Regions from separate parts of the Homo sapiens genome. Here region 2 is linked to region 1. The links come from fine-mapping of genetic effects on gene expression. Tissue or cell type: whole blood. Region 1 holds a variant in brackets; the other region holds the start of a gene. All regions are shown on one strand. Distances are between the middles of the regions.

Region 1 (5,389 bases):
TGGGCTTGGGCTTGTATGGCCATTTATTCTCCCATAATTCTGAAAGACAAAAAAAAATAAAATAAAATAAAAATCATGCAGCCAGGCAGTGGCTCATGCCTGTAATGCCAGCACTTTGGGAAACCAATGCGGGCAGATCACTTAAGGTTAGGAGTTCGAGACCAACCTGGCTAACACGGTGAAACCCCATCTCTACTAAAAATACATAAATTAGTCAGGCATGGTGGCATGTGCCTGTAATCCCAGCTACTGGGGAGGCTTAGGTGAGAGAATTGCTTGAACCCAGGAGGTGGAGGTTGCAGTAAGGCGAGATCGCACCATTGCACTCCAGCCTAGGTGACAGAGCGAGACTCTGTCTCAACAACAACAACGAAAATCATGCAACACATGAGATGTGTTATACCCAATAGCAGCAAGAGGGAAGAAAACATGATCAATAACATTGAAACACTTTCAGAATGTGTTGCTAGAGGTTTAACATCAAAGTTTGCAACTACCCTACTGTTAATACGAGAGAAGGCTAGGCGGTAGTTTATAAGAGAACATTAAAAGGTTAGATAGGGTAAACATGTTGCTGATGAAATTTTCTACTAAGTCATGGAGAATTCCATAGGTTCAAGGCCTGTACATTCCTACAAAGTTATCAGTGATGGCAGTTACCATAGGCATTTAAGAAATGCCCAAAGACTCTTTCAGAGGATTAATGAAGGAGGTTTTCTGTCTGTAAAAGTTTTTTCATACAGATGAAGTAGGACTACTTTAGAAAAATATGTCTAGTAAACATATGTCAATAGGGAAAAATATGCCTAGATGTAAAGCTCTTAGAAATTTTCATTTTAATTTGCTGAAATGGATTCAGAGACCTTGAACTTGAGTACCTCCTAGTTACACTGGTTAGAAACAAATGGACATACCAACCTCACTTGATTTTAAGAGAGCTTCTGTATGTAAGTAAAATAAGTCACACACGAACACACACACACACACACACACACACTCTTTTTCTTCTAAAAAAAGTTAACCTTTAAAGTAACTTATTGTAATAAAACTGTAGAGAACAAGGACTACACACAGCAAATTCTACATAAATCACTTTATACACATAGAAAACCACTCTGAATATGTCAAAGGCCTGTTTGTTTACAAAAAAAATTCTCATTCATTTGCAAAGGTCAAATATGTTTCAACTCCTACTATGGTCTAAATCTACTGGAGCTAAGAGAAATGCTCTTTAATTTCAGTAAAGAGATCAGAAAAGAGACTCTTGTGGCCTTACATGTTGAACAAGTAATATTTTGGATACACTGGATTATATAAAATATATTATTAAGGTTATTTTCATTTATTTCTGTACTTTTCAAAATGTGGCTATTAGAAAATTTTAAATTACATAGCTCTTGTATTATTATTCATCTATTGGACAACACTAATCTAAAACAATCATGAGTTAGGGATACAGAAAAGAATATGATTAAACTTTCTGCCCTCAAAACAGAGGCGGGGAGTAAGCAAACATATCATATTAAAGGTCTTTTCTAGTCAGCTACATTACACAGTACATTTCACTAAGTATTTATCTTTTCTCATTCCATTAATTTAGTTATGATTATGACATCTGTTTGATGAAAGCATCATTTTGGTTTTGACAAGACTGAATAAGTCTTTAGTTTCTTTGAAATTAAAATATTTTCAAGACATTTCAGGAAGGTATTAATCAGCAGTTTTGATATCCATTTCTAATGTAGGTTTTTTTTTTAAAGAGATGGGGTCTCAGCCAGGCATGGTGGCTCACGCCTATAATCCCAGGGGTCTCAGCCAGGCATGGTGGCTCACGCCTGTAATCCCAGTACTTTGGGAGGCCAAGGCGGGTGGATCACTTGATGTCAGGAGTTTGAGACCAGCCTGGCCAACATGGTGAAACCCCGTCTCTACTAAAAATACAAATATTAGCTGGGTGTGGAGGTGGGCGCCTGTAATCCCAGCTACTCAGGAGGCCGAGGTAGGAGAATTGCTTGAACCCAGGAGGCGGAGGTTGCAGGCAGCCAAGATCACACCATTGCACTCCAGCCTGTGTGATAATAGTTGAACTCCATCTCAAAAAAAAAAAAAGATGGGGTCTCACTCTGTCACTCAGGCTGGAGTGCAGCGGTGCAATGTTGGCTCATTGCAGCTCAGTCTCCCGGGCTCAAGTGATCCTCTGCCTCAGCCCGCTAAGTAGCTAAAACTAAAGGTGCGTATCACCATGCCCGGCTAATTTTTGTAGGGACGGGGTTTCACTATGTTGCCCATGCTGGTCTCGAACTCCTGAGCTCAGGCAATCCTACCTCGGCCTCTCAAAATGCTGGGATTACAGGCATAAGCCACTGTGCCCAGCCTTAATGTTGTTTTAAGGAATAAAAATAATAATTAAAAAATCAATTTTTAAATTTCCCTGAGAAAAATAAATACAAATTACAGCTTCAAAAAAGTCTGATTTAGATTAATGTATTTCTTCAATCAGAAAAAAAAAGATAAAGGTTTCAGACTACTTAATTTTCTTATTTTAAAGAGAAGTGACTAAACTAATCCTATATATGGTTTGATAATCCTCAAACTATTAGAATGT[G/A]CTGCCATACTAGTATATCCTTTCTCAAGATAAAATAATAACTATAACTTGATACTAAATCACTGTCATTATAATAACTAATACTGTCAACAGATAACTGAGTAACTATTGGTTAAGAAATTATATAACTGGACGGGCACAATGGCTCACACTTGTAATTCCAACACTTGGGAGGTCTAGGTGAGAGGACTGCTTGAGTCCAGGAGTTTGAGACCAACCTGGGCAACATAGTAAGACCCTGTCTCTATAAAAAACGAAAAACTCAGCCAGGCATGGTGATGCATGCCTACATTCCAAGCTACTTGGGAGGCTGATGTGGGAAGATTGCTTGAGCCCAGGAAGTCAAGGCTGCAGTGAGCTATTATTGTGCAACTGCACTCCAGCACGGGCAACCATGTAAGAACCTGTCTCAAAAAAAAAAAAAAAAAAAAAAAAGGAAAAAAGAGAAAGAAAAAAAAAAGATATAACTAAGAGGCCAAAAAAAGGCTCTCTGCATAAACTATATTAACGTCAAGATCATGGTCTTGACACTATAGGGACTGTGCTTTGCTTTGTTTCATGAATGCAGACCATAATTGTGGTAGGCAGCATAATAGGCCCCTAAAGATGTCAACATACTACTCCTTGGATCCTGTGAATATGTAATCTTACATGGTGAAGGAGAATTTAGGTAGTGATGGAATTAAGGTTGCTAATCAGATGACCTTAAAATAGGGGGATTATCCTGGACTTTTTGGGCAGGGCCAAGGTCAAGGGTCCTCAAATATAGAAGAGGGAGGCAGAAGAGGAGGTTGGAGTAAGGTGATGTAAGAAGGACTCAACCCACTATTGTTGGCTTTGAAGATAGAGGGACCACAAGCCAAGAAATGAAGGTAACCTCTAGAAGCTGGAAAAGACAAGAAAATGGATTATTTTCTAGAGCTTCCAGACAGGAACACAACAGTGCCAATACCTTGATTTTAGCCCAGTAAGATCTATGTTGAACTTCTAACCTTCAGAATTGTAATATAATAAATGTGTGTTGTTTTAAACCATTAAATCTGTAGTAATTTGTTACAGCAACAAGAGGAAACTTATACAATAATGAAAATGGTTTCACAAATGGGGCTTTCAACTGTGAAGGGAAATCAGGCTAAAACCTTGGGTGAGGCAGATCCAAATCTATCACAAACAAAATAAATTCAAAACTGTGCAAAATCTATGTCAGATTATTTTTTCCTTTCAAAGAGGAGCATTATGATTACAAAAAGACACTATGGTATTTTAAGATTTCTTGGTCTAAATAGTCTGAAAAAGCGCTTGGCAATGAACTAGACAAAAAAACAAACAGGCCTGCTTAAAATAGCAATGAAAAATATTGTATACCTAGTACTGAATGTGCTCACTCTACATTTAGTTCTAGATAAGAATGGATAAGAAGTTGGCAATAGAAGTATATCTACTTTAGACAGTGAGTTTTTAACAGAGCTATGAAATTTCAAGGCTAGCAAAGAGCAGCAATGACAAATGTGGACAAATAAATTTATAGTTCTTTTGGCTATAGCATGTCAAAATTTATGTCAAATAAAAACTTCAATGATTAGTCAAAATCATTTTGTTTGCTTTAATTCAGCTCAAGGACTCTTTCAAATCAACTTGTGAGGTGATTTTCAAGAAAATCATGGAAAAGATTTTCAAGAAAGTATGTAATATTGAGGAAAAAGATGGCAGAAATCACATTTACTTTTAATTTCTACAAATGAGAAAAATGTAAAAAAAGGATCAAGCAATAAGAACCAGATTCTAGGATGGCCAGATCAGTAGTTCCTTTAGTTAACAAGAAAAACTAAAACAGACTCATCTAATTAGTCTTAAATTCCTTATGCATACACCAGTAGTCATATTGCAATATTATTTGTCCTTATATTACTGGAAGAATCTTGTGCAAAGAATTCAAGTATGAGGCAAATATTATACTGCCTCTGTTTAGAGACTGTTCTCAAACAGAGAAGATGAGTTCTGAAATACTGAGTTCTGAATGTTCAGAAGAAGCACAATATTTGACTTCTTTTCTGAGAAACTCTTTGACAAGAACAAATTACAAAATGTTGATAGATCCTGGTTTAGCAAAATTTTAAATTAAATTTTGTATTAAAGAAGCTTAACACTTTAGAAGAGAGCAAATCATGAATGTCAAAGATTAAGGGGAAAATCATGCTAAAGAAGCTAGAACAACATATACTTGTATAACCTTTTTTTTCCCTACTTAACTTGCAGAAGAGAGAGATCATTAAAGGTAGCTCAGAACTGAGAAGAGGTACAAACAATGCAAGCTTTTATCTTCTAACAAAGAGAACGAAAGCACTTGTGAGTTTTCAGGATTAGAATGTAGTTCAAGATAAGTTTACTGACTAAACAACTCGGTCTGTCACAAGAAGGAAAGGTACTAAGAGGTTTTAACATGAGTGTTGTAACCCAGATTAGAAGCAGAGTTGAGCTATCATTACTAAGCAGCCCACATGGGCTTTAGAACTCAAGAAAAGGCATAGGGTAAGTGTAGGTTATTTGTTGTTGTTACTCTTTTTGTTATTAATATTTGCTAAAGCCTGTCATATAACTTGTTTATATTGTTATAAATATATTTTCCATTAAATGTTACTTATATCCAAATAATATTAATGTTTCACCTGGCTAAGTTACTCATTAACTCTCTCTCAGTTATCCACCTCAGAGAAGATCTAGGAAGCAGACACATTAGGACAAAATAAAAGCCTTGATAAAGTGGGGAACATAATCTAAAAGCCA
Region 2 (5,389 bases), 27 kb after region 1:
ATAAACAAATTACAGTAGATCCACATACTGGAATACTATTAAGGATTGATAAGGAACAAACTATAAATAGACCTAACAATATGAATAAATCTCAAAATCATTATGCTAAGTGAAATAAGCCAGACACAAATGGCTATATATTTTATATTTCTGTTTATATGACATCTGGAAAAGCCAAAAGTATAGGAAGAGGAAATAATTTTAAAAAATTAAAAATTTTAAAAACAATGCCAACGCAATTGCACTGCATAAGAATGTTTTGGTCAAGGATGGACTGCCTATTGGTCCCGTAAGATGATAGCAGAGCATATATAGAACCTGATATAGGTCATTTGATATTAGCACTGCAGATCAAGTAGGAGAAATAAATGATACCCAATAATGTGCAGGGACATTTGGTTCTCTATATGAAGAAAAAAATATACACACACACACACACACATATCATCTAGGTTCATGTAGGTAGAGTCTGTATTCGTGCAATGCTGAAACTGCCTAACAAAGCATTTCTCAGAATTTATTCCATTGCTAAGTGACTCACGACTACAGCTGCAAATAGTTATGCAGTATTTTACTATGATAATCCTCACAGTACTTCATGAAGTAGGTATTAGTTTTATATCCATTTTACAGGTAGGAAAATGGAGGTTCAGAGATTGTCCAATTTACTCAAGGTAATAAAGTGAGTACATGCGCTGACACTTTTAACTTGGTGTCTCTTACTTCAAATTTCACGCTTTTCCCCCCTGCTATACCAGTAAGTCAATTACTTGTTATCCTTAGCTTTTATAATACTTGGTTCAGGCCTCTGTTACACAAATTATAAAGTGATTTTTGTAATCAATAATTTAGATTATAAATGAGGAATGGAAAGAGTTTATTAATTTTTTATGTTTACATTGTTTAACATAATGTTCAGAACACAGTGGACACTCAACTATTTGTGAATGAATAAAGAATTACCTGCATTTCCTGAAAGGAGAATTAAAAATTATAGCAAATATTCCAGAGGTAAATTATTTCACTTTTGAAAACATTACAGTTCACTTTCACATACATGGCACTATAAGTAAACTGTGTCTAAGAAGGTATAGACTTAAGCCTTAGTATCTATGTTTGGAAAAGGACATAATATCTATCCCTTTTTTGCAATTACGAGGATGATTAAAAGTCCTTTGTATATGGTAATGTATAATTATTATCATATCTAAGTATTATCATCCATATCAGGCTGTTTAAAGTAACATAAAACCCTTTCTTTTCCCAAAATCTTCACCTACATGAAAAAATATTTTAAAATCTCTTTCCTTTCATTAATGGTGTTAATGTTTTATAGCAATGTTTATAAAGCTTCAGTGCTAAGAAGAAAATAATCAGAAGACTCACGAATTGTATCCTTTTATAACGATATAACAGTCTAATGCAGTTCACAAACTGCTGGTTCTGGAGGTAGAGAGACAGATGACAAGGAGAAATAGAAAATGCGTAAGAAAGAAAACTCAGTTCACGAAAAGCATAGCCTTTGAAGTAGTTAAAAGTTTTACTGCTAATAATTGGTATTCATATACAAAAGTAACGTAAATGAAAGTTGTTTTTTTTTTTTCAAAGCCCATACATATGAGAAAATGGCTTGAAACTGTAATATTCGAGACAAATATAAATATCTTCTTATACTCTGATTGCTAAGTAAAGGTATCATTTACAAGGGGGATTAAGTGGTTTCTACTACATAAAGAAAGACTGTCCTGGGACTTCTTTGGATATGCTCATATTTTCAAGAATTTCTCTTAAAATCATTACTTAATGTACTTAAACATGTAGGAATAAGAAAAAATGAAAGTGATTGATTACAACTTGTAGTTTTGCAAGAGGAATGTCAGGGTCACATTTGGTTAAGCTTTATACACTTTGTCCCCTCCATAAAAGCAAATAAAATCAACTCATTGCTTAATTCCTTTAATAATTTTGTGTTCAATAAAGTAAGGCAGTTAGGTATTATGTCAAGATTAGGACTTAACTGTTTCACCAAGGGTTAAAAACAAAGCCACCAATTTAAGCCCCTAAAAGGTTATAATACCCGCTGGTTCCATCTTAAAATCTGCAATTTTCAATCAACATGTTAACTTGGATCGGAATTCTGACATTTGAATTATTCTATTTTAAGCTCCAAAAAATGGACACGCACAATTTTATGCAACGTCAAGGACCTGTAAATTTAAATACACTTCTCTGTAATCTGGTTCACTTCAGAGTACAAATTCATTGAACAAAAAAATGCCTTCATCGCCATATGCATTCACATGAAGCCACATGGGATAAATGCATTTCCACTTTAAAAAGTATCTACTTTGGTTCAGAAATGCCCATTTAAGAAAAACCTACACTGAGATAAAGTGGACATTTTTCTTTTAAAACTACGTGACAGGATTCCCTCTTGACCTCACGTTTCTCCCCGCCACGTATTTAAATTTGGGGCAAAATTTCTGATTAAATGACTGATCAAAGTAATGGGGAGAATTCTTCAACGCCGGCCAAAAGTGCTTAGTCTCAAACGCTGTGAGGGAGCATTTCCTAAGCTTTGGGCGACTCGTTAACGGAATCTTAAGGGCAAGGTCCAACCACACTCAGAATCAGCAGGAAAATGACCGTTTGGTAAAACTCAATTACACCCAGTAGGCACCTCCCCAGGCCCGAAACAGCACTCGCCCTTTCTGCTCAGCTAGCGCGGGACATCGCAACGCCCAAGGCCCTCCTATCTCAAAGGCGCTTGCGCAAAATCTCCCCACAGACTCAATTAAACCCTTCCTTAGGCCGGTCGAGGCGAATGGTTTTGAAATTACTGTCGGGTTACGCCTCACTTTAAAAAACAGTAGGTATGACACAGCACACCAGAACGACCACTCACCGAGGTGGTCCTAAATTCAAACGACAGATTTAAGCTTCCTCTCGTGATTTATCTCGCGCTGCCGGAAGCGGAACTACCCGGGTCCTTTAGAGGGCAGTCCTTTGGGGAACCTTGGAACCACGGTCAGAAAGGTTAGGACTGATCATTTGGCTCTTGCCGGAAATCGTTCCGCCCGGTGAGGTTTCGGCGTGAGACCCGAGGAGGGCGGGGAAGAGGCGTGACGGAGATTCCTGAGGTGTAGTAGCCTGAGGTTCCCTTATGTGGCCCTATAGCTGTTACTGAAGGAAGTAGCCTACGTCCACGCCTACAACTGAAGTCTCTTGACAAACACCTCACCCCTGCCTCCGGGATGAAAGGGGGTAACCTAGACCTGAATGGGCTTGACCATCTCACAACTGCTCGCGTGACGACCGCATTCGTGGCAGGTGAGGGCCCAAAACCGGAGGAGAACCGGAGATGCGGAACCTGATCATGCCAGGGTTGAGGCGGCTGCTGGGCTTCTGCTTTGTCTCCTGTGCTCTGCAGACCCTAAACACATGCTCCACCGAGGGGCTTGTGCTGGAGAGAATGACAGCCTGGGCGTGGAGTGACAGTACAGCTTTGAGGGTCCTTTCGCGCCTTGATTTCTCCTCCTGCTCCCCCATGGCTTCCCTTTTTCATTTCTTGGGTTCGAGACGCCAGAAATTGAAGATCAGCTAAAAGGGAACCGCTGAGCTTCTACCCCACGCTGTGCCTGGCTCCACTGAAGTGATTAGCCTCGAGTTATGGGACTGCTGTGGGTAGAGGTGGCTTTTTAAAAAATTTTCTGCCTTAGTCTTTATCCCTCTCTCTGTCAACCCCACACCCACTTTAAAATAACAAAAGCCTCATGTGTTGCAGCTTTTCATAGTAGGGACCGAGGCTGCAGGGCACTGCCGCACCTAGTCATTTGGAGGTCGTTGCAGCCTTCTGCGCCTTGAAGAAGAAGGGGCCAGGGTGATGATCCCTGGATCTCATTCACGAGGTTCTTGACCACTTCCTGGGAGATTGCGACTCTTGGTGTCCTTTGGCTAGTAGTTGTCTTGCTGGAAGGCTTAACTGTGGAAGTGGGAAGCATAGCTGACCTTAGCACGTAAAATCCTCGCTCTACACTGGGACAGGATTTTGTTTTGCTATTGAGAATTCTTAAATGAAATAGATAATTTTTTTGTCTCAGATAGATAAAATAATAACGATAGTTGCCATTAACTGAGTCTTATGTGTGCCGAGTGCTTTACATAGTTTGTCATTTATTCCTCTCAACAATTCCAGGAGGTATGTTAGATTATTATCACCATTTTACAGAGTTAGAAATGGAGGCTTTGAACAGTCAAGCAACTTGCTCTATTAAACATTTGTTATAAGTAAACGTTTGAATCTGTGTTAAAAACCAGATCTGTCTGCCTTCAAAATCTGTATTCTATTGTCCTGTCCTGTTCTTCCTCGATTTCAATTTCTTCACTAACATTTTCAGTGTCTGAAAGTATCCATTCATTTAAAAAATTTTGGTGTACCTACTTATATGTCTGACAAAAGTTAGACATGATCTCTGTCTTTATGGAGCATTGTGATGCAGAATTAAGTAGTGCAGAACCCAGAATACTGTACTTACTGCAGCACAGGTTTATTTAAAGCAAATGACTAAACTGATTTGCAGAAAATTTTAAAATCAAAGGTTGCTGTTTTAAATGTTAAATTCATATGACTTTCAGAGTAGTTGTTGTGAGGGTATTAAACTGAACAATTGGTAGAACATCTGTTGATTACCCAAATAAGTGCTATGAACCAAGTTAAGTAGTGGGAATATATAGATTAGGTCCTCATTCTTTAAAAGCTCCCATGCAACCACAATATAGACAATGTTATGGACTATTAATTTTCTCACGTGGAAAAGGAATTGTGGTTATGTAGGAAGGTGTTCTTATTTTTAGCAGATACATACTAACGTACTTAGAGTTGAAGTGTGTTGATATCTAGTACTTTCAAATGGTACAGCAAGTGTATGTGTGTGTATGTGTCTGTGTGTATAAATAGCAAATATGGCAAAATGTTGGCAATTGTGAGTATAATGGTGGGCATATAGATGATTAACAAACTGTTCTTTCAACTTTTCCGAATATTTGAAATTTTTCATAATAAAAAGTTGGGGAGGAAAAAACCCAACCCTGATGGAAACAGATAAGTGAAAAGATAGATCCAAAATGCTGCGGAACATAGAAGATGGGAGAGGGTTTTTATGTGTATTTGGGGCCTAACAGAAGTGTGATAGTTCTCAGGAAAACCTTCACTGAAGACCTTTCAGTTGGTTTTTGAATGGCGGATAGGAACTTTCAAGGAGAGCAGTGAATTCCAGGCAGAAGGAAATGCAGGTTCAGCAAAAAGATATTAAATGAACGTTTGAAGAAGGAAAAAGAAATCAACAAGAAGGTTGTGTGGAACTTGGAATAGGCTTTTTTTGTGTAATCT

The links.
Region 2: it holds the start of PPIP5K2, and the variant in region 1 is fine-mapped to the expression of PPIP5K2 in whole blood (TOPMed, PIP above 0.99).

What each region holds. Positions count from the first base shown.
Region 1 is chr5:103,089,930-103,095,318 of GRCh38, forward strand. All of the region lies in intron 7 of GIN1 (gypsy retrotransposon integrase 1), which reads right to left. Among named protein-coding and RNA genes, the nearest start is that of GIN1, 28 kb to the right of the region's middle. The variant G/A (reference allele first, on the strand shown) is at 2,606.
Region 2 is chr5:103,117,159-103,122,547 of GRCh38, forward strand. PPIP5K2 (diphosphoinositol pentakisphosphate kinase 2) reads left to right here and starts at 3,143. Exons shown (of 31, transcript NM_001276277.3): 1 at 3,143-3,330. It overlaps GIN1 (gypsy retrotransposon integrase 1), which reads right to left and starts at 2,980. Exons shown (of 8, transcript NM_017676.2): 1 at 2,906-2,980. RefSeq lists enhancers at 2,116-2,617, 2,618-3,118, 2,954-3,213, 3,244-3,433, 3,484-3,543.